Homo sapiens: one gene and its partners. The protein of the gene in region 2 purifies or fractionates together with the protein of the main gene of each other region. This does not show direct contact. Each region holds a gene or a part of one and is shown on either strand. Other genes may lie near its edges.

Region 1 (4,237 bases), on a different chromosome or scaffold from region 2:
GCTGTCTCACCTGTATCACGCCAGCATTATTTATTAGTTCATAAATCAGCCTTCCATGATGAAAGAACCTGGCCTGGAATCAAAGTCTGGAAGTCTGTATTTCTTTAAGATCCATGCTTGAAAATTAGGACAAAAAACGCTTAGCTTTGGAGGAACAAAAAGGAAACAGTTCCGCAAAGAGCTCCAGCCTTTTTCTGGGGCACGGTTTGTGCAGTTTAACGTTGGAACGTACAGCCTCAGACGGGCAAAGGGGGCGACTGCACTTCTGCCGCCACCAGGGTTTTTCTGTCAGGTTAGAAAGTATTTCACTTTGAGGCTAAAAGTCTCACAAGGTATCTTAACGCTGATGGAATGTTATTTTCATGGAATCAGTATAAGAAATTATATTGTAAAGTATTAGATACTTTGCATTCATTCATACTAGGTTTCAGTAGCTTGTGTTTTAGACTTTGCGCTTGTCACATTTTAAGTGGTCAGTGACCACAGGCTTGTGGCTGCCCAGCTGCAGAGCACAGTGCAGTCACAGAGGAGCCTGTCTTAGAGACGCGTGCTTTAGGTTGGCCTGCATTAGGGCTTACATTGATGTTTCTGACGTGTTAATACTTACATAGAAAGGTTTTGACATTTTTTCAATTAGCCCCTTATGTATAGTCTTACTTTTTAGAACAACTTATTGTCATTTTCTCGTTTAAATAATATGAATACTTCTCTCTTTCTGTTACTATGTCAGTTTCTTATTCACTTAGTTCAACAGATCTAGTGCTAGCATGGCCTGTGCTGCTGTTGGTCCTACTGGGAACGCAGGTAGAGTCTCCATGGTCAGGATGCCGTGTTCTGTTGTGGTGCTGAGGCCTGTAAGCACTTGGCTAGAAGTTAGGCCAGGGAAGCTCACACTGACCTTGGTATTTGAAGGTCCCAGAATGAGGTTGTTGAGGTAGAACAGAGATGGGAGAACATGCCCTTGGAGCTGGACTCAACAAGAAGGCCCCTCTGGGGGAAGCTGAGGTTGGACAGGAAGGGCGTGTGCCCTCACTGACTTGCTCACAGGCTTGGGGTTCATCTGTTTTGGTTTTTGCTTTTTTACATTATATTAACATGGAAATAAAAGGTGTTCCCTGGGATGCTCCCGGCTTCTCTGCTCAGTAGCTTTGTGGCTCTGAGTAAAATGAACTTGCCTGTGTTGAAATATCCTAATTTTTAAACTTACTTCATAGGGACTGAGGAATTACGACTTTTATCAATTTTGTGACCTGTTAAAATGTTAAAAAGGACATGTATTTTTTAAAGATCTTTAAGTAAAACATTTTGCTCATTCCCAAAGCCAAATTTAAATTATACCATGGCCCTAATTCAGAAGTTCATTCTTTGGCAGGTGTTTCCTTGGTGCCTGGGGCACTCTCTCTTTCTCCCAGTTCCTGTGGCAGTTTGTCCAGGTGCCCAAGAACAATTCATACCCTCCTTTCTCGTTATTTATATACTTGTCTTTTTGCCCCTGCCGGGTATTTTAGAAATCGTGCTTGGTGCACTTTGTGTCCTTCAGTGTGCCTTACCCAGAGCAGATGCACGATAAGCATTTTTACACGAGAACAAGCTGGTGGTGTAGGCCTCTGCTAAGGAACAGGCTGTATATGCTCTTTGTGGGATTAAGGTAGAATCAGCTTTAACTCCAAAGAAACTGTCCATGAATTTTGTTTATAATAGCAAGTAGATTTAAAATGACACTTTAAAAAAATTCTGTTGTCTTTCTCTACATATAATGCTGTAGAAAAATATAACTGATGGATTTTGTGAACGTGGTATTTTTAACTTTTCGTAGCAGCACAAAGAATGCTCCTCTTTGTGTGTCAATGAAATTGTTCTTTATGACAGCTTCAGGGTAAATCTGCAGAGACCAGAGAAAGCACACAGCTGAGCCCTGCAGATCTCACAGAAGGGAAACCCACAGATCCCTCTAAGCTGGAAAGTCCGTCATTCACAGGAACTGGTGACACAGAAATAGCTCATGCAACTGAGGATTTAGAGAATAATGGCAGTAAGAAAGATGGCGTGTGTGGGTAAGAAAAGTGGTTATGTCTTGATCTAATACGCTGGTGTCTTCACAGTCCTTTTGGATTAAATGGGATCCCAGAGCCACTTCTTGGTCGGTTTGAGGGGGCAGTACATGTGTGGTATCAGGCACATGCAGTGTGAGGGCTGGACTCTGTGGAAGCCGGAAGGTTTCAACATCTGCCGCAAACCGTTCCATGTTGCACAGAACTGACAGAAAGGAAGAATGTGCTTTTGGTATTGAAGGTTACCACACATTACAGATTGATTTGTCTCATCCTGATTCCCTTTTTAGTCCTCCTCCATCAAAGAAAATGAAGTTATTTGGATTTAAAGAAGATCCATTTGTATTTATTCCTGAAGATGACCCATTATTTCCACCTATTGAGTAAGGATTCAGCCTTTTTAATTATTCATTTAAAGAAATTTACTATAGAGTATCAAATGTACAACTGATCACATGTAACCATTGTTTTGTATGTAGTTCTGTCTAGCTTTTTTTTTTTTTTTAACCTTTTTAACTGCATATTAGAGCAGGATGAAACTTTAGAGGTTACTCAATCTTTTAATTTAAGGAGAAAGTAAACTTTTACTTTGTGAACATGATAGATAAAAAAAAACTGGACCGGGCGCGGTGGCTCACGGCTGTAATCCCAGCACTTTGGGAGGCCGAGACGGGCGGAGCACGAGGTCAGGAGATTGAGACCATCCTGGCTGACACGGTGAAACCCCGTCTCTACTAAAAATACAAAAAAAATTAGCCGGGCGTGGTGGCGGGCACCTGTAGTCCCAGCTACTCTGGAGGCTGAGGCAGGAGAATGGCGTGAACCTGGGAGGTGGAGCTTGCAGTGAGCCGAGATCGCGCCGCTGCACTCCAGCCTGGGCGACAGAGCGAGACTCCGTCTCAAAAAAAACAAAAGAAAACTGGACTGTGATTATGAATCTAAATTAGTTGTGATCCTGAACCTAAATTACTCAATTGAGTATATAGACGAGTAGCCAAGGTTGTCTAGTTCAGTTTCTGTAGAAGAAATGAAGAGCAGCATGGGTGAGGGCTAATTAGGGATGACATAGACAGAATATAGAGGAAAAGGGTTTAGGACAAGTCTGACATTCATCTGTTTCTTATTCATTGAATTTTAGAATCTATTTACCAGGGCGGTCACTTACTGTCTTTTTTAATAACTGGTCCTTTGCATACATTTGTAAAAGTCTATTAAAAAATAAGTCTCAGCCGGGCACATCCCAGCACTTGGGGAGGCTGAGGCAGGCAGATCATGAGGTTAGGAGTTTGAGACCAGTCTGACCAATGTGGTGAAACCCCGTCTTTACTAAAAATACAAAAAAAAATTAGGTGTGGTGGCGTGCACCTATAATCACAGCTACTCAGGCTGAGGCAGGAGAACCGCTTCAACCCGGGAGGCAGAGGTTGCAGTGAGCTGAGACTGCGCCACTGCACTCCAGCTTGGAAGACAGAGCAAGACTCCATATCAAAAAAAAAAAAAAAGTCTCAAAAGTAGTGTTATCAGGTCATTATCATTGGAGTAGCGGCTGAGGGAGAGAAGCTGCACTTGTTAATTTAGGTTTCTGATGGAGTTGTGCCCCAAATAAATGTTACGTGGAGGTTTCAGGTGGAAGTGGATGAAGTTTAGAAGCTGGAGTCCAGAGCAGAGCCCAGTGCCCTTGAACCACACTGCAGTTTTGGGGATTGAATTCTGGAGGAGGAGAATAAGATGTTTAGAAACAGTCTACCAGATTTTGAACTCATTGTGGATAAACAACAATGTTGTTATGTACAGGAAATTTTATGCTTTGGATCCTTCATTCCCAAGGATGAATTTGTTAACTCGGACTACAGAAGGGAAGAAAAGGCAGCTCTACATGGTTTCTAAGGAGTTGCGGAATGTGCTGCTGAATAACAGTGAGAAGATGAAGGTGCCAGCCGCACAGACGCTGAGTGCTGTGTGATGCGGGATGCGTGTGGCTTTTCACAGCGGCTTAGATTTCATTTGGAGCAGACCGTGACATCTGCCCTCCCCACCTGTAGCGCTGGCTGTGGGTCCCTGAGCCTGCCCTTTGATTTCAGAGCTGTTGACTGACACAGGGCTGAATGGTTCCTGCCAGAGTCCTGAATCTGGTGGCCTGTGTCTTTTCTGTGCCCCATTCCCGCAGGGGGGTGAGCCATGGTGTA
Region 2 (4,237 bases):
TGCTTTTCTAAAAAAGCTGAGAGATTTTATAATACAGAGTGTACATTGGCACAAGGGAAAAATTAGCTGGAGATGATCAACAGCTGTCCCCTTTAGACAGGGCATGCTTTTCTCATTTTACTGGGCCCTGGAGATTTAAGTTTGAGATCCCAGGTCCGTGTGATGAGAAACAATTATGCATAAAATAATAGCAATCAAATATTACAAGATAATAGATGCTGCATTGCTGGATTATGATTTGAGGCTATGAGCAATAATTGGGAGAGGAGGAGATTACTGAGAATGGAATAGTCAGAGAAAATTTCAAATAAATGGTTTGCTTTGAGGTGGGCTTTGAAGAACTACGACAGTCAAGAAGAAACAGAAAGGAAATCCAGACGAGAGGAAAAGTAAACTGCATACTCCATGAAGGCAAGGGTCCCACCTAAACTGATAGTTTACCTAACCTAAAGTGGTAAGTTTACCACTATCACCTCAGCTTCTAGCATGATGCTTCCAACTTTGTAGACACCCAGTAAATGACTGTGGAGTGAAGGAGAGTAACATAATTTTTAAAAGTGTTTTAAGGAATATATCCTTGCAGTGGTCCTCAGAGTAGAGAGGGCAGAAAGAATCAAAGTAGAACTAGAAGCTATTGGAATATTCTATGAGTACTGCGGTAAGAGCTTACATAGGTGCCATAATCTCAATATCTAGACTAGGGGTCAGACAGGTTAAGGCCACCTAGGCCAGATGAGTAATGTGGTGAACAAAAAATACAAGTACTGTTTTAAAGGGGAGGGAGGGAGAGGCTCATCAACTCTAGGCAATTATTGCCAAGAGAGAATGCTGGTTCAGTATCTTCTGATTAGTCAAAAGAAACTGGAATTGAAGAATTTTTGTTTTCTTTTGAGACGGAGTTTCACTCTTGTTGCCCAAGCTGGAGTGCAATGGTGTGATCTCGGCTCACTGCAACCTCCGCCTCCCAGGTCCAATCGATTCTCCTGTCTCAGGTTCCTGAGTAGCTGGGATTACAGGCATGCACCACCACACCCGGCTAATTTTGTATTTTTAATATAGATGGGGTTTTACCATGTTGGTCAAGCTGGTTTCGAACTGCTGACAGGTGATCCTCCTGCTTTGGCCTCCCAAAGTCCTGGGATTACAGGCATGAGCCACTGCGCCCGGCCTAGAATTCTAGAATTTTAAGGGAAATCTGATTTTGAAATATTGGCAATCAACCAACTTTTAAAAGTGTGGGACTAGGCAATTTGACACACTGCTATGAACTGACTTGTGTTGTGTCCACTCTCCAAAAAAAAATTAATAGGTAGAAGACCTAACCTAGTGACTATATTTGAAGATAGGGCCTTTAGGAAAGAAATTAAGGTTAAATGAGCTCATAAAGGTGAGGTTCTGATCTGATAGGATTAGTGTCTTTCTAAGAAGACACACCAGAGAGAATTCACTCTTTCTCCTCCCATTTGTACAAAGATCACATGAGTACAAAGTGAAAAGGTGGCCTTCTACAGGTCAGAAAGAGAGTCCTCATGAAAATCTGACCATGTTGGCACCCTGATCATGGACTCCCAGCCTCCAGAACTGTGAGAAAATACATTTCTGTTGTTTAAGCCACTCAGTCAATGGTATTTTGTTATGGCAGCCTGAGCTCTCTAATGCACTGCTTACAAAAGTTTTTATTGTTATTACAAATAACACTGCAAAAGTTTGGAAATAACTTAAAGATCAATCAACAGAAAACTGTTTAAAAATTTGTGGCTCATGCATATAGTAAAAACCTATGCAGTCATAAAAAAGAATGAGGCATTTAAAAAATGTGCATATATGAAAATATCTCCAAAGTATATTTTTAAGTAGACAAGCAAGTTGTAGAGAACAATATGCAGAATGTGTTACTATCTGTGTATAAAAGGTGAAGGGGATATATATATACACACACACACACAAACACACACACACACACACATATATATATAATAGAAACTACCTCATAAGGTTGCAGTGAAGAATAAGTGTGTTAATTTTGTAAACACTTAGAAGAAGGCATGAAAGTGAAGTAAGCAGTGAGAAAATATAGTTGTTGTGGTACTTACATATATACTAATATTATATATGTATTATATATAATATGAGCTCATCTAACCTTAATTTCTTTCCTAAAGGCCCTATCTCCAAATACAGTCACAAGCTTAGGTATTAGGTCTTCAATGTATGAATTTTTTTGGGGGGGATGGGGGGGTCACAATTCAGTTCATGTCAGTATGTCAAGTTGCCTAGTCCCACACTTTTAAAAGTTGATTGATAACCAGTATTTCAAAATCAGATTTCACTTAAATTCCTAGAATTCCAGTTTCTTTTGAATAATCAGAAGATACTGAACCATATATATATATATATATATATCCATCTATCTATCTATAGAAAACCAAACATGATTTCACATTATCTTTGAGTAAACAAATGAGCCCAATACTACAATGTTATTCACACACACACACACACACACACACACACACAAACATACTCATTGCTTGATATACACTAAATATCCCTGGAGAGATTCCTAATAAATAGATAACATTAGTTGCCTCCAGCGAGGCAAAATGGGTGGCTAGAGAACAGGAATAGGAGGGAGACTTTTTTCACCATGCACCCTTTAGTAAATACTGAATTTTGAGCCAGGCGGAATGCATTACCAATTGAAAATGCATGTTTTAGTTGAAAGTTTTTAAATTTTAGGGAAAACAAAACACGTGTGAGCTTTAGTTGGTCTGTAGGCTAATTGTTTGCACGTCTCGCCTAAATTAAGGTGGTGGCAGTTAGAATAATAATAAAGAAACAGATACCAGATACAAAGGGGAAAAAATACAACAGCCATTGGCATCTAATTAAATGAGAAAATGAGGAAGAGGGGAAAGGGACATGAGTACCACAACAGCTACATTTTCCCACTGCTTCACTTTCATGCCGCCTTCTAAGTGTTTACAAAATTAACACACTTATTCCTCACAGCAACCTTATGAGGTAGTGTCTATTATTATCCCCAATGCACAGATATGACAACTAAAGTACAGAGTTTAAATAAGTTCACCATTACTATGGTCATAGTAAGTTGCAGAACCAGGGAAGTGAAAGGAAGAGTCTTGAATGAGGAATGAGTGAAGAGTCCAGAGGTGATGATGGGCTGTATATTAGAAATGGTGAGTGTGAGGTTACAACAAAATGTCAAATTGCTAGTGATTTGAAATATCTGGATTGGGCTCTTGAGTTAGGTTATTGCTCCTTAATAATCCTAGAGCTTAGTTTGCCCACATCACATCTATTTTGTCTAAATACACAAATAACATCTTTTAGTATATTATACAGAACATCTAGCACCTTTCATATATTTAAATCCAGCTTCCTGTCCACTAATCTACATTCCACTTCTGCAAACACACAGCAGCATTTAAATAAAACAAATTTTTTTAAATAACAAAAATGATGAGACCGCAACTTATGAAACATATTAGATATCAGGCACTGAGTTCAATGCTTTCCTTACATTATTTATAATCACAAATTATCATGTCATTTTAGAGATGAGGAAACAGGCTAAATGATGAAACTCAGTTGAGGATAGTAAACATTAGCATATAAAAATCAGGAAGAGGTTGGGCACGTGGCTCATGCCTGTAATCCCAGCACTTTGGGAGGCTGAGGTGGATGGATCACCTGAGGTTGGGAGTTCGAGACCAGCCTGACCAACATGGAGAAACCCCGTCTCCACTAAAAATACAAAATTAGCCAGGTATGGTGGTGCATGCCTGTAATCCCAGCTACTCAGGAGGCTGAGGCAGGAGAATCACTTGAACCTGGGAGGCGAAGGTTGCGGCAAGCCGAGATCACGCCATTGCACTCCAGCCTGGGCAACAAGGGCGAAACACCGTGTCAAAAAAAAAAAAAAAAATCAGGAAGAATACCAAACATGATCTCACACTGTCTTTGAATAAACAAATGAGCCCAATACTACAATGTTATTCCCTTATTCATACTCTACTTAACAATAAGATGGTAATCATACTAGATGATCATCTATGTCAATCATCCTAATTAAGTTTTCCTTCATTCACAAAATCATGGCATTGTAAAGCTAGATCTTAGAAGATCATATACTGCCCCCACCGCACCAGGCACAGACAATCTGGCAAGATCAAAAATGACTAGGCTCTGTTTGCTACTTTGGTTATTGGAATTC
Region 3 (4,237 bases), on a different chromosome or scaffold from region 2:
CCATCCAGGTGGTCACTTCCTCTGGGGCCTTACGGCACATTTTACAAACATCTCTTATAACTCCTAATGTTAACAGTATTAAGTGGTATTTACTGAGCACTTACTGTGTGTCAGGCATTATTATAAGTGCTTTTAATGGATTAACTTAATGACTCCACACAAAATTCTGAGGTAGGTGCAAAGATTCTCATTTAGAGGGAACTGAAAAACAAGAAGGGTAAATTGCCCAGGGCTTGAATGGAAGAACATAACTGGGTCCAGGGAGTCCAGCCCAGAGCTGACAGCCATACTGCACAGCAAGGTGACTGCTGGTCACTGTTCTCAAAGACTGAAGTATGGCAGCAACAGCTGTTCTGTTTTGCATCATCTCTACTCTTCCAGAAGGCAGTGCATTGTAGGAAGCCTGGCTCAACCAATGTGAGATGAAGAAAGGGAGAAGTTTTGGGATAAGATGATGCCAACATGGGGCAAGAGCCAATACCACTGCCTTCAGGAGCAGACAGGCTATTTCCTAGCAATGAAAGATAAGAAATTCCTAGGTTTGTTTAGAAAATGTTACTCTGGTACCTAGGAACGGAGGAAGGCTATGCACACCTGAAGTCCCCAAACCTCTTCAGGGTGTCATCTGAAAACTTTGCACACAAGACCAGAGGAGATGGAATGACAGAATTTCCCACAAAATGACAGTAAACATTCCAGTCTGTCAAGCAGAGACAAAGAAGTATGGCGAGAGTGGCTGGATATGGGGCAGACAATGGATAGAGGTATCCTGAAAAAGAAGTCTGTAGCCCAACATCTGGTTCTGCCAACTCCCACAGGCTGCTAGCACTCACCGCAAAGCAGCCAATCACATCGTTCTCTGCAAACTTGTCTCCGTAGTTTTCAAACCGGCTATTGGTGGACTTCTTCCCAGTGCCTCCATAGCCATAGGAGAAAGGCTCTTCGCCTGACGGAAGAAATAGGCAAAGGCAGGTTAAACCTGCGATGGTCATAACAGCCTCAATGGCTGCCACATACTTTTATTTTTGAAGAAAAAAATCATTTTCTTTACTAGTTTTATTAATCAGATGCCTTTTTAAAATAGGGGTGGGGAAGGGTGAAAGGAAGCCCTTAATGATGTAGAACTTGGAGGGCTTGATGGGTTTCATTGTCCAGTCTGGGAGTAGGAGCTCAACTGAATAACTCTGCACAGAGGGGAGAATTTGAAAAGAAAGGGAGGAAGGAAGACAGGAGTTGGGATGGAGGAGAATGGCTGTATGCTGAGATGCAACCCTTCCTTGTGACACCCAATATTCAGTCCAGTCTACTTGTGGTAGAAATCAGTGAAGGGGCTGGATTTTGCTCCTGGAGACCATGAGGACTGACCCCTGGGAAAGGTACTAGATTTCCTCAGGCTACAGAACTGGGTGCTGAAGTGATATGACTGAGAGATCCCAAGGGCTCTGGCTGACACCTGAGTTAGAGATTCCGGGCAGAACCCAAAGAGTATGCTGTTAGAAAAGCAGGGGCCGACAAGCATGAATGCCAGGGCTCGTTCTGCTACAAACCAGCTATGTGACCCTGGATATGGTGCTTGACCTCCTGGGCTGTTTCCCCATCCCTATCAACTGCCACCACCTACATCTCAAAACGGAGACAGAGATAAGATGAGATGACTTATGAGTCTTAAATAAAAAGTGCTAACACATATGGAAATGAAAACTGTATACTTTTTTTTTTTGGTGCTAACATATCTACCTTTTTGAGGAGGTACCAATTTATGGGGTACATGTGCAATTCTGTTACATGCACAGATTGCATAGTGGTCAAGCTTTTAGGGTGTTCATCACCTAAAAAATGTACATCGTACCCATTAACCAATTTCTCATCCTCCTCCACCTTGTTACCCCCTAACACTTCTGAGTCTCCATTATCTATTATTCCACTCTCTAAGTCCATGTGAACATATTTTTTAAACAAACACTTGTGAGTGAGAATATCATCTATTTTTAAAGATTAGTCTTAAGTGGTCAGGCAATTATGGACCAGGATAATGGCTCAAGTGTTAAAACAGCAAAAATTTGCAATAAGTTTAAATGAGCTACAGAAGGGGACTTGTTAAATAATGCAACTATAAAATGGAAAATTATGCAGTAGTCAAAAAGCTGCAGTTATTTACAAAAATATGCCCATCATACATTAAAACAAGGCTATACAAAGTAGTCCTAGTGTGATCCAGTTTAAAGATGTACAAAAAAATAAATGTCCAGAAGACTACAAATGGAATGTTAACATTGGTTAGTTTCTCTCACAGGTTTAGGAAGGATTTTCATTTTTCCCTTTCTGTATGGCCTGAATTCTTATACGCAACACATATTATTTTCATAATTGGAACGTTTGTATGATCATAAACGGAAGGCAGGAGGTGTCAGCATTGGTCAGAATAATCAGTCACTTGGGACCAGAAGGTCATTGAAGCCTGGGGACCCGCAAAATTCAAAACCTTTCAATAGGCAGCCCCTGCCCCTCTCCCAACTAGCCCTGGCCTCACTGGTCTCTGCTCCCCTTTTTCCTCTAGGTTAGGCTCCGGACAGAAAATACAGACAGAACTTAATGGAGCTTGGGAACTTATCAGCAGCTTGGTTTAAGGGCAGGAGACACTGATCCTTTTTACAGAAAGGGAATAGATTCCTAAAGAGAATTTTGGACCCTCTCCTAAAAGATGAAGGATAAGAATTGATTCTTCACAGAAAAGTTGTTTCATGACCATAGTCCTCTCAGTTGAATACAGCATGACAGAGACAGTGGCATATACCTAATCCTTGTACCTGTTCCACTTCAGCCTAGTTCTATTCTAAGTCTGACGCTGGAAAAGGAAGCTTAGGAGCCTTGAAAATCCAAGGGTAGGGACAGTCACTCTATTCTCTGGACTGCATAGCTGACCCCTCCTTACCTAGCTGGGTGCTGCAGGAGTCCAGGGACCAGCCGATACGGACCACGTGGGGGTCAGGCTCTGTAGACGGAAGGTGCTTCACGGAGATTTCCTCATTGATCTGAGGAAAGAGGACAAAAGGGCTCAGGGTTGCTTCTCTGGAGGCCGTAGGTTATGAGCCAATATAGGAGGGAAGCATATCAGGCATTAAAAAATAGCAATGGCTTTTCTTGCTGGAGAAGAAGCGTTTAAGCAGCTCTGAAAAGCCTGTTGAACCGAATCGAAGCCAGGGCCTCCAAAGGGATCAGTAGAGTACAGGGCCACAGAGACAGGCATTTCAAAATACGGTTATGTTTTAGTTTAAGAGACTCTTGTAACATCTAGTAGAAAGATAAACTGTTACAGTGTCTTTAGAGGGCAATCTAGAAGTCTCTATCAAAACTGTAAATGGCTGGGGATGGTGACTCACACCTGTAATCCCAACACTTTGGGAGGCCAAGGCAGGAGGATGGCTTGAGGCCAGGAGTTAGGAACCAGCCTGGCCAACATAGCAAGACCCCATCTTTACAAAAACATTAAAAGAAAAAAACAACAAAACCCCATAAATGCACATGCTCTATAACTCAGCATCCTATAGATACACTAATATGTGGACAAGTATGTCTACGTATGTGTGACTGTATTTGTATATGCAACATTCTGTGCAGCATTGGATGTATATATGTGCACATATATATATATATATATATTTTAACATCAGAAAAAATATCAATAAAGCACTGATTATGGTATATCCATGCCACAAAATATGATGCAACAGTTAAAAAGAGCAAAGTAGGCCGGGCACGGTGGCTCAAGCCTGTAATCCCAGCACTTTGGGAGGCCAAGGTGGGTGGATCACCTGAGGTCAGGAGTTCGAGACCAGCCTGGCCAACATCATGAAACCCCGTCTCTACTAAAAATACAAAAAATTAGGCATGCGTGGCGTCATGCACCTGTAATCCCAGCTACTTGGGAGGCTGAGGCAGGAGAATCGCTTGAACCCAGGAGGGAGACGTTGCAGTAAGCAGAGATTGCGCCACTGTATTCTAGCTTGGGTAACAAGTGAAACTCCGTCAACAAAACAAAACAAACAAAACAAACAATCAAACAAACAAAAAACAAGGAGCAAAGCAGTACATTGGGCTAATGTACTGCTATGGAAAAATGTCCAAGATACAGTATTAAGTTAAAAAAAAAAAAAAAGCCTTCTGACTTAATTTCGTATTAAAAGACTAGACTGCCGAATATCCGTATCTACCTGTGGCCTCACTGGCTTTTCAGACA
Region 4 (3,929 bases), on a different chromosome or scaffold from region 2:
TCTCATGGGTTTCAAAGAACATCTTTATTCCTGCCTTCATTTCGTTATGTACCCAGTAGTCATTCAGGAGCAGGTTGTTCAGTTTCCAAGTAGTTGAGCGGTTTTGAGTGAGTTTCTTAATCCTGAGTTCTAGTTTGATTGCACTGTGGTCTGAGAGACAGTTTGTTATAATTTTTGTTCCTTTACATTTGCTGAGGAGTGCTTTACTTCCAACTATGTGGTCAATTTTGGAATAGGTGTGGTGTGGTGCTGAAAAAAATGTATATTCTGTTAATTTGGGGTGGAGAGTTCTGTAGATGTCTATTAGGTCCGCTTGGTGCAGAGCTGTGTTCAATTCCTGGATATCCTTGTTAACTTTCTGTCTCATTGATCTAATGTTGACAGTGGGGTGTTTAAGTCTCCCATTATTATTGTGTGGGAGTGTAAGTCTCTTTGTAAGTCACTCAGGACTTGCTTTATGAATCTGGGTGCTCCTGTATTGGGTGCATATATATTTAGGATAGTTATCTCTTCTTGTTGAATTGATCCATTTACCATTATATAATGGCCTTGTCTCTTTTGATCTTTGTTGGTTTAAATTCTGTTTTATCAGAGACTAGGATTGCAACCCCTGCCTCTTTTTTTGTTTGTTTTCCATTTGCTTCGTAGATCTTCCTCCATCCTTTTATTTTGAGCCTATGTGTGTCTCTGCACGTGAGATGGGTTTCCTGAATACAGCACCCTGATGGGTCTTGACTATTTATCCAATTTGCCTGTCTGTGTCTTTTAATTGGAGCATTTAGCCCATTTACATTTAAAGCTAATATTGTTATGTGAGAATTTGATGCTGTCATTATGATGTTAGCTGGTTATTTTGCTCGTTAGTTCATGCAGTTTCTTCCTAGTCTCGATGGTCTTTACATTTTGGCATGATTTTGCAGCGGCTGGTATCAGTTGTTCCTTTCCATGTTTAGTGCTTCCTTCAGGAGCTCTTTTAGGGCAGGCCTGGTGGTGACAAAATCTCTCAGCATTTGCTTGTCTGTAAAGTATTTTATTTCTCCTTCACTTATGAAGCTTAGTTTGGCTGGATATGAAATTCTGGGTTGAAAATTCTTTTCTTTAAGAATGTTGAATATTGGCCCCCACTCTCTTCTGGCTTATAGAGTTTCTGCCAAGAGGTCAGCTGTGAGTCTGATGGGCTTCCCTTTGTGGGTAACCCGACCTTTCTCTCTGGCTGCCCTTAACATTTTTTCCTTCATTTCAACTTTGGTGAATCTGACAATTATGTGTCTTGGAGTTGCTCTTCTCAAGGAGTATCTTTGTGGCGTTCTCTGTATTTCCTGAATCTGAATGTTGGCCTGCCTTGCTAGATTGGGGAAGTTCTCCTGGATAATATCCTGCAGAGTGTTTTCCAAGTTGGTTCCATTCTCCCCCTCACTTTCAGGTACACCAATCAGAGGTAGATTTGGTCTTTTCACATAGTCCCATATTTCTTGGAGACTTTGTTTCTTTTTAATTTTTTTTCTCTAAACTTCCCTTCTCACTTCATTTCATTCATTTCATCTTCCATCACTGATACCCTTTCTTCCAGTTGATCGCATTGGCTCCTGAGGCTTCTGCATTCTTCACGTAGTTCTTGATCCTTGGCTTTCAGCTCCATCAGCTCCTTTAAGCATTTCTCTGCATTGGTTATTCTAGTTATACATTCGTCTAATTTTTTAACTTCTTTGCCTTTGGTTTGAATTTCCTCCTGTAGCTCGGAGTAGTTTGATCGTCTGAAGCCTTCTTCTCTCAACTCATCAAAGTCATTCTCCATCCAGCTTTGTTCTGTTGCTGGTGGGGAACTGTGTTCCTTTGGAGGAGGAGAGGTGCTCTGCTTTTTAGACTTTCCAGTTTTTCTGCTCTGTTTTTTCCCCATCTTTGTGGTTTTATCTACTTTTGGTCTTTGATGATGGTGATGTACAGATGGGTTTTTGGTGTGGATGTCCTTTCTGTTTGTTAGTTTTCCTTCTAACAGACAGGACCCTCAGCTGCAGGTCTGTTGGAGTTTGCTAGAGGTCCACTCCAGACGCTGTTTGCCTGGGTATCAGCATCAGTGGCTGTAGAACAGCGGATTTTCATGAACCACAAATGCTGCTGCCTGATCGGTCCTCTGGAAGTTTTATATGAGGAGTACCCAGCCGTGTGAAGTGTCAGTCTGCCCCTACTGGGGTGTGCCTCCCAGTTAGGCTGCTCGGGGGTCAGAGACCCACTTGAGGAGGCAGTCTGCCCGTTCTCAGATCTCCAGCTGCGTGCTGGGAGAACCACTACTCTCTTCAAAGCTGTCAGACAGGGACGTTTAAGTCTGCAGAGGTTACTGCTGTCTTTTTGTCTGTGCCCTGACCCCAGAGGTGGAGCCTACAGAGGCAGGCAGGCCTCCTTGAGCTGTGGTGGGCTCCACCCAGTTCTAGCTTCCCAGCTGCTTTACCTAAGCAAGCCTGGGCAATGGCAGGCGCTCCTCCCCCAGCCTCGCTGCTGCCTTGCAGTTTGATCTCAGACTGCTGTGCTAGCAATCAGTGAGACTCCATGGGCATAGGACCCTCTGAGCCAGCTGCAGGATATAATCTGGTGTGCCATTTTTTAAGCCCATTGGAATTGCGCAGTATTAGGGTGGGAGTAACCCAATTTTCCAGGTGCCATCTGTCACCCCTTTCTTTGACTAGGAAAGGGAACTCCCTGACTCCTTGCGCTTCGTGAGTGAGGCAATGCCTCGCCCTGCTTCAGCTCATGCACAGTGCACTGCACCCACTGTCCTGCAGCCACTGTCTGGCACTCCCTAGTGAGATGAACCTGGTACATCAGACGGAAATGCAGAAATCACCCATCTTCTGCGTCGCTCAGGCTGGGAGCTGTAGACAGGAGCTGTACCTATTCAGCCATCTTGGCTCCACCCCCCATAATCTCATCTACTAGACAAGCTGAGGCAGGAAAATGGCTTGAACCCGGGAGGCAGAGGTTTCAGTGATCCGAGATCATCACATTGTATTCCAGCTTGGGTGACAAGCATGAAACTTCATCTCAAAAAAAAAAAAAAAGAATTGATTGAAAATTGTTATAGGCTATGCCACATTCTTCACAGGTGTAGGGTTTCTATCCAGTATGAATTATGTGTAATAAGGGTTGAGAACTTCCTAAAAGCTTTGTCACATTCTTTATATTTGTAGTGTTTGTGTTCCATAAATTCTCATATTTAGTAAAAGTTGATAGCTGGTTAAAGTCTTTCCCACATTCATCAAACTCATAGGGTTTCTCTCCAGTATGAATTATCTTATGTCTAGTAAGGGTAGAGGAGTGTCTAAGGCTTTGCCACATTTTCACATTTGTAGGGATTCCCTCCCATATGAATTATCTCATGTCTACTAAGGTTTGAGGATGAAATAAAGGCTTTGCCACATTTATTGCACTTGTGTGGTTTCCCTCCAGTATGAATTTTCTTATGTCTAGTAAGGGTAGAGGAGTACTTAAAGTCTTTGCCACATTCTTCACATTTGTAGGGTTTATCTGCAGTATGAATTCTCTTATGTGTAGTAAGAATAGAGGAGCACTTAAAGGCCTTGCCACATTCTTCACATTTGTAAGGCTTCTCTCCAGTATGAATTTTCTTGTGTTTAGTAAGGTTAGAGGAGCGGTTAAAGGCTTTGCCACAGTCTTCACATTCGTAGGGTTTCTCTCCAGTGTGAATTATCTTATGTGTAGTAAGAATAGAGGACCGACTGAAGGCTTTGCCACATTCTTCACATTTGTAGGGTTTCTCTCCAGTATGAATTCTCTTATGTTTAGAAAGGGGAGAGGAGTGCTTAAACACTTTGCCACATTCTTCACATTTGTAAGGTTTCTTTCCAGTATGAATTATCTTATGTGCAGTAAGGGAACAGGAGTACTTAAAGGCTTCACCACATTCTTCACATTTG
Region 5 (4,237 bases), on a different chromosome or scaffold from region 2:
AAGACCTTAGAACCATTTATTTTTTAAAATGTCTGTAAGAAAAGGGAAAATACTTCAGACTATTTTGGACTTCAAATTCTATCATCTAAAATTTCAAAACCTGACCTTAAAACTCACTTCTACTTTCTTAGAAACAGCAACTACGCCACCCACAGGGCAGCTCAAAAGCCTTTAAAAACGGGGGACGGCACTTTCCAGGTGTGAGCTGGCAGGTTGTTTAGAACCTAGGGTGCACGCAGGCTGGAGGGCATGATTAATTAAAACTATGAGTCCGGTGGATCAAGTGGGCGTCAAACTCCCCTTGCTCTGCTGGGAGGCGGCCACCGGGGGAAGGACACAGCGGGCCAGGTGCAGCTGGGAACACCCAGCATCCACAACAGCACAGACCTCACCACTCAGCCTTCTCTGCTTTGGGTTCCAAGAAACCCCACATCTCCAGAAGTGAGGCTGGCATCACATCAAAAGGCCACCAACCAACTTGTTTTCCACTTAGCAGCAAATAATCTACGTGACTGAGAAACCCTGCTGACGCTGAGGGAACTCGCTCACTGTAACTGAACGTGGAAAAAGTCAAACCATCAATCCACATGGCACTGCGCCGCGCCTCCCACCCACGACAGCCTCCTCAGGTTACACCGTCCACCCAGAGCACATGGGCGGGGAGAAGATGAGGATCTAAGACCACGCCTCAGGGACGCCACTCCTGAGTCACACCTCAAGCCAACGTGAATGACGAGACCCTCGGGTGTCCGGGCCTACGGCCTCATCCTAAAAAGTTCACAAGTGCTCAGCGGGCTCTTCAAAGCAGGAATGTAACAAGGTTGGCTGGAGTAAGGCCTTTGCCAGCAAATCTGTAAGAGGGGCAGCAGGCCTGTGATGTCTCCTACTGGAAAACACCTTGGGTGGGCATCCCTCATGCCAAGACAGCCCTGCCAGGCCATGGATCTAGGCAGGCTCTGAAACCCCGGCCTAAGCCAGGAGCTCAGCAGGTGACCCCAGCACCCACTGGGACACTGTCCCACGGTGGATCTGGGGAGGCTGTCTGCTGATATCTCCCAGACCCAGAACCATGCCCCTGACAGTCCTGCCAGCTGCCTGGAGTTTGCAGCCCTGGATCTCAGATGTTCTAATGGTAACCACTTTAAGAAACCACAGGCTTACAACGTTATTTTTTTTTTTTTTTTTTGAGATGGAGTCTCACTCTGTCACCCAGGCTGGAGTGCAGTGGCACGATCTCTACTCACTGCAACCTCCGCCTCCTGGGTTCAAGCAATTCTCCTGCCTCAGCCTCCCAAGTAGCTGGGATTACAGGTGCACCCCACCATGCCTGGCTAATTTTTGTGTTTTTAGTAGAGATGGTGTCTCTCACTATATTGACCAGGCTGGTCTTGAACTCCTGACGTCGTGATCCGCCCACCTCGGCCTCCCAAAGTGCATGGATTACAGGCGTTGAGCCACCATGCCTGGCCACGACAAACAATTCTATCGAAGAACGGTTAGGACTTCCCAGGCAATGAACTGAGAGACTCTGTTTTGTTTTGATTTTTAACAGAACTTAGGTTTGTGTTCTGGACGTTAAGTGAGAGTGACCTTCAATTATGTTCCAGAACGGGGCACCGCATGCAGTGCGCGTGCCGGAGGAGCAGGAGGAAAGCTAGCAACTGCTTCTCAGTGTTACTATCAGATAGCAATACTAAGGCAGAGGGAGAAGGGAAGATAACCTTTTCCAAGTATTTTTTTCAGGAATTTTTGCACAAATCCCATTCTCCAGACTTTATATGGTACATCGATCCTCTGCAAAGCTTTGCTTACTAATATTAGAGGACTAATTAGGTGTTTTTTTAATTACAGATGAATAAAAATAAAACTTAATACATTAAATGAATATTCTTGTCTTTTGAGAGACAGGACAATGAACATCTACGGATTCTGTTTAAAATGACAAACACGTGAAGTGCAATCACGTCGGCCTGCTCCTGCGGAATGTCGGTGTGGAGGAAACGTCCTCTCAGCAGGAAGGAAGCCGTGCAGGGCTTGCGACCTCCTCCCAGGGCCAACGTGCAGAGGGCCACCAACCCCAGGCAGGCATTCCCCGGCAGGGCAGAATGTGGAGCCTGGGAGAGCTGTTCCCATCTGCTGTGCTCCTCGGCCAGGGCAAGGGAGCAGCTCTCAGCTCAGCAGTGGGATGGGGCCGGCTGGCTCTGTCCTCAGGGACATGGACAGGCAGGTGCGCAGCAGCCCTGGCCCTCCGGGGGTGGTTCTGGGGGTCACATGTGGCCTGGGGAAGAGAGGGCCCGCACATCTTACCTCTGTGCTCCAACCCAGGGCCGCTGACACCCCATCCCTGGTAGAGGGTCGCAAAGTCCTTTGGAATGTACGTCTTAAAGATGTTGAGGATGTCCAGGCGCTTCTCATGCCCCTCGGCCACCGGCTCCTGTTTGATGGAGTGTAGGACGGGGGGCGCCCCAGCCACGCCGGGCTGGGCCTGCAAGGCCGCGTCGCCCCTGGACCCCGCAGCACAGGTGGCCAGAGTCCTCAGCTCCTGGGCTGCCTTCGAGGGGGGCTCGCGGGGAGGTAGAGGAGGAGCGCCCCCTTCGCCCTTTGCAGGAGGTGGACCCTGAGGCTGAGCACTGAATTTGGCTTTCAGGGAGTCCGGGGCACTGTGCTTATTTGTGGGGGCAAAGCCAGCCCCCGCTGGGGGGACCCCAAACTTCTCCACAGGCTTGCTATTGGCCGAGGGCTGCGCGCCAGCCCGGGCGATGACGGTGGGCGTAGGGGTGGCGCTCCTGCTGAAGCCCCCGCCACCCGGGGCAGGCACCGGTTTGGAGCTAGCCTCCTGCCTGGGCTTGGCCAGGGGCCCCTGTGTGGCCGCGCCATGTGGCTCCTGGCCGTGACAAGGTTTGGTCTGTCGATACCCGTCAGGGCCGGGCGCCCACAGAGCGCAGGGACCTCCGGAATGGCTCTCCTTATTCTTAGGCATGCTAGCGGCTTTTGTGACCACTCCCAGGGGAGAAGAGCCACTTTTGGACCCCGGCATCCCCCCTGGCACCTGAGTGCGGGTGAACCGAGCAAGGAGCAAAGGCTGGCATTCTTTGCCACCGAGGGCAGGCGGGGGGCCCGTGCGTCCGCTCCGGGAAAGGAAAACCAAATTGCTTCTGATGCTTTTGTAACCATTGGGCTGAATCCACGGGGGAGCCACGGAGTTGCAGCTGACGCGGTGCCAGATGCGTTTGTGCATCCACAGGACCTCGGGGTAGTAGGTCTTGTGGCTGCAGTAAGGACACGGGTGAACGACTAAAGCCGCCTGCAGGGAGGAGGCCGTCTCCTTATTGCTGGGGTCATCCCGCGTCGACCTCGCACTTAAATCTAGCGGCATGAGGTCTGGGGCCAGCGCCCGCTTCCCTCCCCCAGAGTGTTCCTTGTTGTGCAAATCGGACAGCTTTTCTGCAGGGTGACCCGTCTGGCCCTCCGCTCCCGTACTGGAAGGGAACTCCACACCATCACCAGGGACGGGCACCTCCTGCTTGGGGTGAAATGCTGGCATCTTTAAGTCCATAGAAAATCTGTGCTGCTCTTGCCTTCTAGAAGTCTCTCTGCTACTGTTTTCAAGTATGGACACAGAAGCTGCGATCCCTGCCTTGGACTCGCCGGTGTCTCTTTCCGAGGCGTTATCTCCCATCTTGTGACTCTGGTCTCCACTGGAGAGCTCGGTCGAAGTCACCTCTTCGGAAAAGCAGCAGCGGCGCGGCTGTCCCCCTAGAGGAGGCAAAATATGAAACGGGAAGTTACCATTTCTCATCAGAACACAGCAAGACACACGGTGCGTACAGCTACAGCATGTTCCAAGCCATCTGTCTTCAGCGGGAGAAGCCACCCTTGAGTCTGGGTGGCTCTTAGAAAACCCCTGAGGAGCCACCCAGACAAGAACAAAAGGGGGTGAGTCAGGCAGGACTTCTTTTCTCAATTTAAATGACCTGAAAGATCACAGGGAAAAAATACAATAGCAGTGGTGTATCTAGTTACATGTAACGACGCTGTCCCTAGTTAACAGAGGGTGACTGGTATATTAAAACTTGGGAAAAAAATTAATTATTCACAGCAGTATAAGGTTCGTATGACTTTCGAGGAACTCTACATTTAGGGCTCTTGTGGAATCTTCACAATCATTCATTGCAGGGTAAGAAAACCAGAGAAGTTGGGTGGAGCCCACAGTCACAGAAGCAGGCTTGGGCAACAG
Region 6 (4,237 bases), on a different chromosome or scaffold from region 2:
CTCACGGTTATTAATCACAAGTCCTGGAAATGGTCTAAAGAGAGAAACAAATTGTAAAGTATAACAATTTATTTTCACTCTGTAAGAATTTACAGGTATAACTGTTTATTCAACTCATATCTAGCCCACGTCATTTACGTACTACAATGAGAAGTATTATCCGTGACCTTATAAGCTTATGGAAGAGATAGATACGTATCAATAATAAGAACACTGTTAGAAAGTGTTAAGCTACTAGTAAATGGAGGAAAAACAAAAAATAGAAACGCAGAGCAGGGAACAGAGTGATTCTAAGTTTAACATACGGAAGAACGGAAGGGGCTTTTTGCCTAACTCCTGGGAGTGATATGGAGAATGACGGTGGGTGAAGTGGAACCAAAATATGAGATTTTGAGGGAAAGAAGATTGGAAGAAGACGAGTGTATGAGAAGCCTCAAGAGGATTTATTATGAGATTTCTGAGTGCCAGTTCCAAGAGACCTGAACTAGAGACAGTGGCAATCTGATGATGAAATGATTGGGTAGGTTGAGTCGTAGCTGTTTCTGGGGGGCTGGAAGACAAAGGGGAAGATAACCTGGGGTTGGTGCTCAGGTGGGCATCTCTTACAGTGACAAGGACGTGGGAAGGAATGTGGCACTCACAATGGTGTCAGAGGTGAGTACAATCATCATGCCTGCTCTACGGGAAGGAGCTGACACTCTCAGTGGGAACAACGATCAATCTCATTTACAGACAAAGAACAGAGTGACCTGGCTAACAAATGGCTGATGCAAGGTTGAATCCGTCTGACCCGAAGCCTGTGACAAGGCGCCCTAAGACAGAGGTTGACAAAGTTCTTTTTTTCTTGTGATGGAGTCTCACTCTGTCGTCCAGGCTGGAGTGCAGTGGCATGATCTTGGCTCATTGCAACCTCCACCTCCTGGGTTCAAGCGACTATCCTGCCTCAGCCTCCCGAGTAGCTGGGATTACAGGCACCCGCCATCATGCCCAGCTAACTGTTTTATTTTTGTAGAGATGGGATTTCACCATGTTGGCCAGGCTGGTCTGGAACTCCTGACCTCAGGTGATCTGCCTGCCTTGGCCTCCCAAAATGCTGGGATTACAGGCGTTAGCCACTGTGCCTAGCTAAGGTTTTTCTACAAAGTGCTAGAGAGTAAATATTTTAGACTTTGGAGGCCATGCCTTCTCAGTCCCAGCTACTTACTCACTGTGACAGGAAAGCAGCCATGGATAATACGGGTGTAGCTGTGTTTCAGGAAGACTCTAAAAATAGGAGGCAGCCTGAATTTGGCAAACAGTCCTAGTTTGCCAACCCTTTGCCAAAGAATTAAAAGAGTCAGCTTAGTTCGTAGAAGCACATCTGACATTCTAATGATGACACAAGTTATTTTGATTTGTTGATTGCACAGCATAGGAAGCCGGATTCGATGACTACCTGTGGCTGCATTTTAGAAGAGTCAGCCTCATGAGCTCCAGATTCGCTCCTGTGACTAAGCAGGAAACTCTCACTTACCTAATGACCGTGAATTTGATAAACTCGGCAGAGTCTAAGATCCTTCTCATGGAGCTGATTTCCAGGTAGCTGGGGGCTTTGAAGGACACCCCCGGGGGCATGCCATCAACTACCACACAGCCAGGGTTAATTGTGATTTTCCTGTAGGGAACTTTCACAGGAAAACCCATACCAATAGCTTCACCTACAGGGACAGTGAGACAAACAGCACAACAGCACAGATTAACCCACCGCCTTAAACAGCCTGTCAAAAGCACAAGATCAACATTTATTTTAAAGACTGTCTCTGCTGTTAACTAAGGTCTTTGTACACTTCAAACAAATTTAAATATGAACCTTAAATTTTTTTTTTTTTTGAGACAGAGTCTTGCTCTGTCACCCAGGTTGGAGTGTGGTGGCTTGATCTCAGCTCACTGCAATCTCTGCCTCCCAGGTTCAAGCAATTCTCGTGCCACAGCCTCCTGAGTAGCTGGGATTACAGGTGTGCACCACCATACCCGGCTAATTTTTTGAATTTTTTAGTAGAGACAGGGTTTCACTATGTTGGCCAGGCTGGTCTCGAACTCCTGGCCTCAACTGATCCACCTGCCTCGGGCTCCCAAAGTGCTGGGATTACAAGTGTGAGCCACACTGCCAGATGGTGAACCTTAAATTCATTAACTTTCATACTGACAATCAATAGTGTAACACTAATGGTATCTTATTAAATAAATTTAGCACAAACAACTCACTTTTAAATTTTAACTCCTTTTATATAGGATTACAACCATCCAACCATCATCTGCTGAAAAGATCTTATTAAAACAAATCTCTTTGCTTATAGCAACTGTACTTTGCAAATGCAAAACTTACCAAATTTCCGACTAAAGAGGTCATTCACTTGTTCTCTTAGCTGTCTAGCTTTTTCAACTTTCGAGAGTCTTTCATTATCATCATCTGAAACAGTTCAGAGAAAACCCAAAACTTAAATACTGCTTTTTTTTTTTTTTATGGTAAAGAGATGGTATCTCACGATGTTGCCCAGACTGGCCTTGAACTCTTGGGCTCAAGCGATCCTCCTGCCTAAGCCTCCCAAGTAGCCGAGACTACAGGTACAAGCCGCTGCTCAATGATGCACTTTTAATCCCAATTTTTAGGAGCTCTGTGTAATGTTTTCAAGCATTTTCCATTTTTTAATGATTTAAGTATTTGAGCACTTTGAGCTAATTAAATTTGAAATTGTTTAAAATAATGCCTAACTAAAAATGCTACAAATTTATTCTTGTTATAAAGACCTTTACCTGCTGTTTTATATAGATTTTTTTTTTTTCCCAGATGGAGTATGGCTCTGTCACCAAGGCTGGAGTGCACTGGCCCCATCTCGGCTCACTGCGACCTCCACCTCCCGGGTTCAAGCACTTCTCCTGCCTCAGCCTCCCAAGTAGCTGGGATTACAGCCACACACAACCAGGCCTGGCTAATTTTTCTTGTATGTTTAGTAGAGTCAGGGTTTCACCACGTTGGCTAGGCTGGTTTTGAATTCCTGACCTCAAGCGATCCTCCTGCCTCAGCCTCCCAAAGTGCTGGGATTACAGGCGTGAGCCACCGTGCCCGGTCTCATATAGACTTTTTTTAAGGAACAGACTAGCCATTTGGGTGGTTAACAGGATTTAGCTCATGCCAAGTGCCAAAACTTGCCGTTGCTGTTTGGAGAGCAACTGTATTTGGAAGGCAACTGCTGTAGGAGTCTGGGAGGAGCACCAGGCAACGTGTAATGTATCCGAGTCCCCGGATGAGCTGAGCAAACCTCTCTAGTTGGGAAAGTCCAAGAGGCCCTGAAGAGACCCCCAAAAACTCTGATGGAAGCAGAGAACTCATACCTGGAATTGTCACCTGAATGATGTTAAGGTCTTCAACACCTGATGCAGTAGTATTAACATTGGGTGATGAATTTATTTTTCCTGAAAATATACATTTAAAATCAGAATTTGTAGAAAACACGGTCAACATCTCTAATAATCATGCTGTCTGAGACTGTTTTATCTCAGTCCTGTTCAAGGTTCTTTCTTTCCATGGTAGATCATTTCAAGAAGACATGATGCCCCCTGAAGGGCTGCCTTTCACTGTTTTTCTCTTCCTGGGGGTACTTAGGAGATCATCACACACTCACAGAGCCACCCAATTATTAAATAACTAAAAATTGTGAAATAGCCTGAACTACAACTTTGAATGGGTTTTCTTTTTTCTTTTTGAGATGAGTCTTGCTCTGTTGTCCAGGCTGGAGTGCAGTGGTGCGATCTCGGCTCACTGCAACTTCCGCCTCCCGGGTTCAAGTGATTCTGCTGTCTCAGCCTCCTGAGTAGCTGGGATTATAGGCGCCTGCCACCACGCCTGGCTAATTTTTTATATTTTTAGTAGAGACAGGGTTTTGCCGTGTTGGCCAGGCTGGTCTCAAACTCCTGACCTCAGGTGATCCACCCACCTCAGCCTCCCAAAGTGCTGGGATTACAGGCGTGAACCACCATGCCTGGCCTCAATGGCTATTCTTTAAACAATGTTTGTAAACCACAGCTGCACAATGCATGCCTAAGAGCGTGTGTTCTATAGCAATGAAAATACAGAAAATACACTCACTGGGAGGGCTCTTAGAGGAGGTGCTCTCCTTAATCGCCGTCTCAAACATTTCGGGCCTATAGACAAAAGAGAAAAAAAATGTGCTGATCAAACAGTAAAACTCTAACATTA
Region 7 (4,237 bases), on a different chromosome or scaffold from region 2:
ACACAAAAAACCTAACCATAATATATACAAATAATGGTCACCTTCAAATCTTTATTCTATATTTCATAACCTAGTTTCTGGTGCCTATACTTTCTGAAGAAGAACTCTCCTGTGCCATAAATCTGCAACTGCTACTCACTACTCACTTACTATATAGGTACACTAGATGAATGAATCCATGTTATGGTTAATCTCATTAAATAATCTATTTGAAAAATCAACTAATACTAATAAAAGGTTAATTTCCTAAAATCTGAAACTGTCAGAAGACTTACCTGATTTGTCTGGCTACTTAAGTATGGCTCAAAATCATCATCATTTACAGCATCTTTTTGATGAATCGAACCGTTTTGTACTGAAACTAAAAAAATGTTTGTATTAGAAGTGTTGTAGTTATCTTTATGAAACTCGCAGCACAACCTAATGTTTTTAATATTTTTCAAGCCAAAAAAAGTAATCAGAAAAAATAATACTGAGTTATTTTTAAGAACCCTCTTAAGGATAAACTATTTTAGATACAAATATTCATGTGCCACAAAAACTTAAAAGTCTTTTGATACATAAGCCCAAGATTACATAAACACAAGCCATATATACACTTCCCCTTACCAAAAACTTTAAGTAAATATCCCAATCTCAACACTGTAGTGAGTAAATTGTTACATAAGAATGTTGGAAAGAGTTCCCTAATGCTATATTTGAATGTAAAATAACTATTTCAAGTAGCGTTGTAGGCAATAAAAAAGATTTCTGAATGTTCTCTACCTTTGTTTAAATCTCTAAATTATTTAGTATAATAAAGAATGAAATAACTATTTTCGATCTAATTTGTTATAGTAAATGTCTTAAATGTCTCCAGTAAAGTTTAGGCTAAAATTAACTTGAAACAATATCACAATGAATAGACTTATAATTATGAAATATCTAAATAAAGAGGGCTTTAATTCTAAGCCCCCCAGAATGAAGACTTTCACATGAAACTACAAACAAAATTAAGACACAAAAGATAGCCATAATTATCCTTGCAATACATGAGAAACAAGTCAGAGAATAATTTTGTTCAAAGGTCATCTCCATAAACACTCTAAAGTTGTTATTCTCTGGATGCTGTTTCAGAGTGCTTTTGAGCAGACTCAGAAGTAAGGTCCCGAATTTGAATCTCAAGTCCAGCACTGAGGAGATGATCTCCAGTTAGGGATTTAAACTCTCTAACCTTTGACTGTTCGCTGTTTCAGAAGGTTATGTATGAATAGTACCTACCTCATCTCATCTGATTATTAAATGACAGTGTTCAATAATCTTAAATGTAATCACATTAAATATTACAAGATCCAAATAGGACTAATATGACTTTAGAACCATTTAAACAGAAGTGTTACTAAGCTAATACTTGATGAGGTGGCACTATGTAAATATACTATTCTATACTAGTGAAGATAAAGTTGAAAGTTTCCGATGGATGTCTACAAATTAGAAACAAAAAGAACTCAGTATCTAAAGATTTACTGCTCAAAGGTACAACATCACCAAATTTTATGAAGTTAGGAGGGTGACGGGTTTAAATTGCGTATTCCTCTGTAATATAACATTTTTATTATCCTTAAATTTTCCCATGAGTGTAGAGCACCTAAAATGTAATATTATGAGTTAACAGTGGCTTGGGAGCAAAGATATACAAAATCCCTTAAATCTTTGCCATCCAATGAGTGGCAAAGATCAAAGATATGATGTTACTGTGTAAAGCATTCAAAGTAGACTTCTTACTACACCACACTGCCCCTCAGAGGCCACAAGAAGCAACCTGAAGGTCAACTTGATCCTGGCTCCACTAACATAATTTAACTATGTCTGATAAGGACTGCATCAGAACTAGGATTGAGCTAAATATGCTCCATGGAATTTAAATATGTAATAGCCACTAGAAACCAAAATAAAGAGGGTGCCTTAGGTTACTTCTAGTGCCATTATAAGGCTGGGTTATTCATTTCAGTCCAAGAGATTCTGACATACCTGTTCTCCTCTGACACTGGCTTTACTGCTCCTAAATCAAAGGTAAGTATGCATGGTCTATTACTTCTTGAAAAAAAATTCTTCACTATTACACTCATACATGTTAGTCAGTATTTGAAACAGCTAACAACTTAAAAATTATGACTAACTATCTCTCATATCCACTAGGTTCTCGAAAATCTAGTTCATACAAATACAAAAAGTGCCAGGCCAGGAGCTCAAGACCAGCCTGGGCAACACAGCAAGATCCCACCTTTACGAAAAATGTTTAGAAATTAGCCAGGAGTGGTGGCATGTGCCTATAGTCCTAGTTACTCAGGAGTCTAAGGAGGATCACTTGAGCCAAGGCATTCCAGGTTACACTGAGCTATGATTATGCCACTGCACTCCAGCCTGGGGTACAGAGTGAGACTCTGCCTCTATTTAAAAAAAAAAAAAGGAAAAAGTACTTACTTAAAATTTATCTGTATATATATATAAATATAATCCTGTTATTCTTATTTTTTTTGTTCTATTATTTCTCTTCTAAGAGGCTAGGCCTGAGAACAACCCATATACTATTATAAATACAGTCTACGGTCATTTTTAAATGATGCATAAATGTCTATAAAGTCTTAAAATATAGTACAAAAAGTCAATCTACTTTAAAAAATGTTTAATTAAAAGTACTTCACATATACCGAGAAGCAATTTGCATTAAACTAGCCCTTAAGTTTTGGAAGTGTATCTTAAAGAAAACTATCTTAAAGACTTTCGTTTTTGAATATTTACTTAATGACAAGCTAATGTCTTGGAGTCTGAAAACCATTAAATAGAAATGAAATCCAAGCTAGTTCCATAGTCTGTAAAATTTCTTCAGGGGTAAAAAGAACAGATGACTTACATGATTCTTCGCCTGTTTCCTCTGCTCTATGAAACAGAGTCAAATCAAGATAGAACATGGGCCTTAGGAGCCAGGTGATTCTTTGCTCTGGTCCTGACTACATCAAGTTAGGAAAGTCAACAGATCTGTGCATCATGTTTCCCCACCTACAAAAACAGCGACAATACCATATACCCGCTATCTCCTTACAAGGATGTTGTGAGGATTGATAAAATGAAGCCTAAAATAATGATAGTAAAGTGCTTTGAAATCATTTCTCGGGAGGACGAGGAGAGAATACAACAGAATATTGCCAAAATATAAGGCATTTTCCACTACTTTTCGAAAATTAAAACTTAGCCAAATTTAACCTAATTATTTTAAATTACAGTTGTATAAAACAATGCATACGTCTCTCCGTTGGAAGAGAGCGGAGAGGAGGAAAAAGATAAATCCTGTTCCATGAATTTGCTATTTATAAACTTAGAGGAGAAAGGAGGCAGTAAGGCCTAAGACTGTAAGTATGGCATCTGACACTTCCAACCATAGTACTCCCAAATAAAAGTACTGCACACCTTTATTCCAATAAGCAAAAATTCTACTTAATAAAAAAATAAAATACGAAGTGTTAAATTATGAACCAATAGGCAAATAATTATCCTTAAATTTCTACTATCCTTTGGTACTACTCTTGCCAAGGATAATAAAGAGTTCTGATATTTAACACAGGGACAGACTTAATTAAAAAAGAATTCAAACTTATAAAACAAGTAAACCTTGAATTATTACTTATTCTACAAAAAACATTTTTGCCATATCAAAGACAATTATTTAGAATTCCTTTTGGCTTCTGTAATGAATTAAGTAATTAAGGATATATAGAAAATCAAAGACACTAAAACTAGGTGTTAGGCTAAAGCTGTCAACTAAAGACAATTCAGAAAAGAAACAGGATCTCTGAAATTATAGTAAGTTGACTGAAAAGGATTACGTGTTCAAAACTTTAACTGACACCAACTTCTCAAGGACATACTATTTTTCATAAGCTTGCTAAGTTCAGAATTCAAGATTACTCATATTTAGAATACTGAGGTTGCAGTTCAAGAAAAATAACTTCATGAAAGTAAACAGAATTGTAAAACAATTTTACGAGCTGGGAACAAGCTAAGGCAGAAAAGCTTTTCTCAAATACACACATAGCTACTTATATCAGGTTCACTGGTAGTGTTGCCTTTGCCTTGTAATTCTCCCTGCAGTCATAAAAATACAAGTAACGTATATTTGTTATTTGTGCACTTGTAGCATCTGCCATTTTTAAGAAACTTAAATAATTAGCAATACTTTCAGGCCAGTAGCATTTTTCCC

The links.
Region 1: the proteins of KLF8 (region 2) and NSUN2 purify together in Homo sapiens (affinity purification with mass spectrometry; one large-scale study listed by BioGRID and IntAct). This does not show direct contact.
Region 3: the proteins of KLF8 (region 2) and HNRNPUL1 purify together in Homo sapiens (affinity purification with mass spectrometry; one large-scale study listed by BioGRID and IntAct). This does not show direct contact.
Region 4: the proteins of KLF8 (region 2) and ZNF66 purify together in Homo sapiens (affinity purification with mass spectrometry; one large-scale study listed by BioGRID and IntAct). This does not show direct contact.
Region 5: the proteins of KLF8 (region 2) and ZNF516 purify together in Homo sapiens (affinity purification with mass spectrometry; one large-scale study listed by BioGRID and IntAct). This does not show direct contact.
Region 6: the proteins of KLF8 (region 2) and GTF2I purify together in Homo sapiens (affinity purification with mass spectrometry; one large-scale study listed by BioGRID and IntAct). This does not show direct contact.
Region 7: the proteins of KLF8 (region 2) and YTHDF3 purify together in Homo sapiens (affinity purification with mass spectrometry; one large-scale study listed by BioGRID and IntAct). This does not show direct contact.

The regions. Positions count from the first base shown.
Region 1 is NC_000005.10:6,605,017-6,609,253, reverse strand, and holds part of NSUN2 (RNA cytosine C(5)-methyltransferase NSUN2), read left to right. Parts: intron 1-1,869; coding exon 1,870-2,054; intron 2,055-2,341; coding exon 2,342-2,434; intron 2,435-3,845; coding exon 3,846-3,981; intron 3,982-4,237. UniProt on the Homo sapiens protein: RNA cytosine C(5)-methyltransferase that methylates cytosine to 5-methylcytosine (m5C) in various RNAs, such as tRNAs, mRNAs and some long non-coding RNAs (lncRNAs).
Region 2 is NC_000023.11:56,235,129-56,239,365, reverse strand, and holds part of KLF8 (Krueppel-like factor 8), read right to left. Parts: intron 1-4,237. UniProt on the Homo sapiens protein: Transcriptional repressor and activator. Binds to CACCC-boxes promoter elements. Also binds the GT-box of cyclin D1 promoter and mediates cell cycle progression at G(1) phase as a downstream target of focal adhesion kinase (FAK).
Region 3 is NC_000019.10:41,277,872-41,282,108, reverse strand, and holds part of HNRNPUL1 (heterogeneous nuclear ribonucleoprotein U-like protein 1), read right to left. Parts: intron 3,033-4,237; coding exon 2,933-3,032; intron 947-2,932; coding exon 834-946; intron 1-833.
Region 4 is NC_000019.10:20,806,707-20,810,635, reverse strand, and holds the end of ZNF66 (zinc finger protein 66), read right to left. Parts: coding exon 3,314-3,929; 3' UTR 641-3,313; downstream 1-640. UniProt on the Homo sapiens protein: May be involved in transcriptional regulation.
Region 5 is NC_000018.10:76,376,548-76,380,784, forward strand, and holds part of ZNF516 (zinc finger protein 516), read right to left. Parts: intron 3,757-4,237; coding exon 2,308-3,756; intron 1-2,307. UniProt on the Homo sapiens protein: Transcriptional regulator that binds to the promoter and activates the transcription of genes promoting brown adipose tissue (BAT) differentiation.
Region 6 is NC_000007.14:74,751,306-74,755,542, reverse strand, and holds part of GTF2I (general transcription factor II-I), read right to left. Parts: intron 4,183-4,237; coding exon 4,127-4,182; intron 3,454-4,126; coding exon 3,373-3,453; intron 2,450-3,372; coding exon 2,366-2,449; intron 1,698-2,365; coding exon 1,514-1,697; intron 35-1,513; coding exon 6-34; intron 1-5. UniProt on the Homo sapiens protein: Interacts with the basal transcription machinery by coordinating the formation of a multiprotein complex at the C-FOS promoter, and linking specific signal responsive activator complexes.
Region 7 is NC_000008.11:63,171,455-63,175,691, reverse strand, and holds part of YTHDF3 (YTH domain-containing family protein 3), read right to left. Parts: intron 3,040-4,237; exon of another isoform or gene 2,952-3,039; coding exon of another isoform or gene 2,894-2,951; intron 2,042-2,893; exon of another isoform or gene 2,011-2,041; intron 362-2,010; coding exon 276-361; intron 1-275. UniProt on the Homo sapiens protein: Specifically recognizes and binds N6-methyladenosine (m6A)-containing RNAs, and regulates their stability. M6A is a modification present at internal sites of mRNAs and some non-coding RNAs and plays a role in mRNA stability and processing.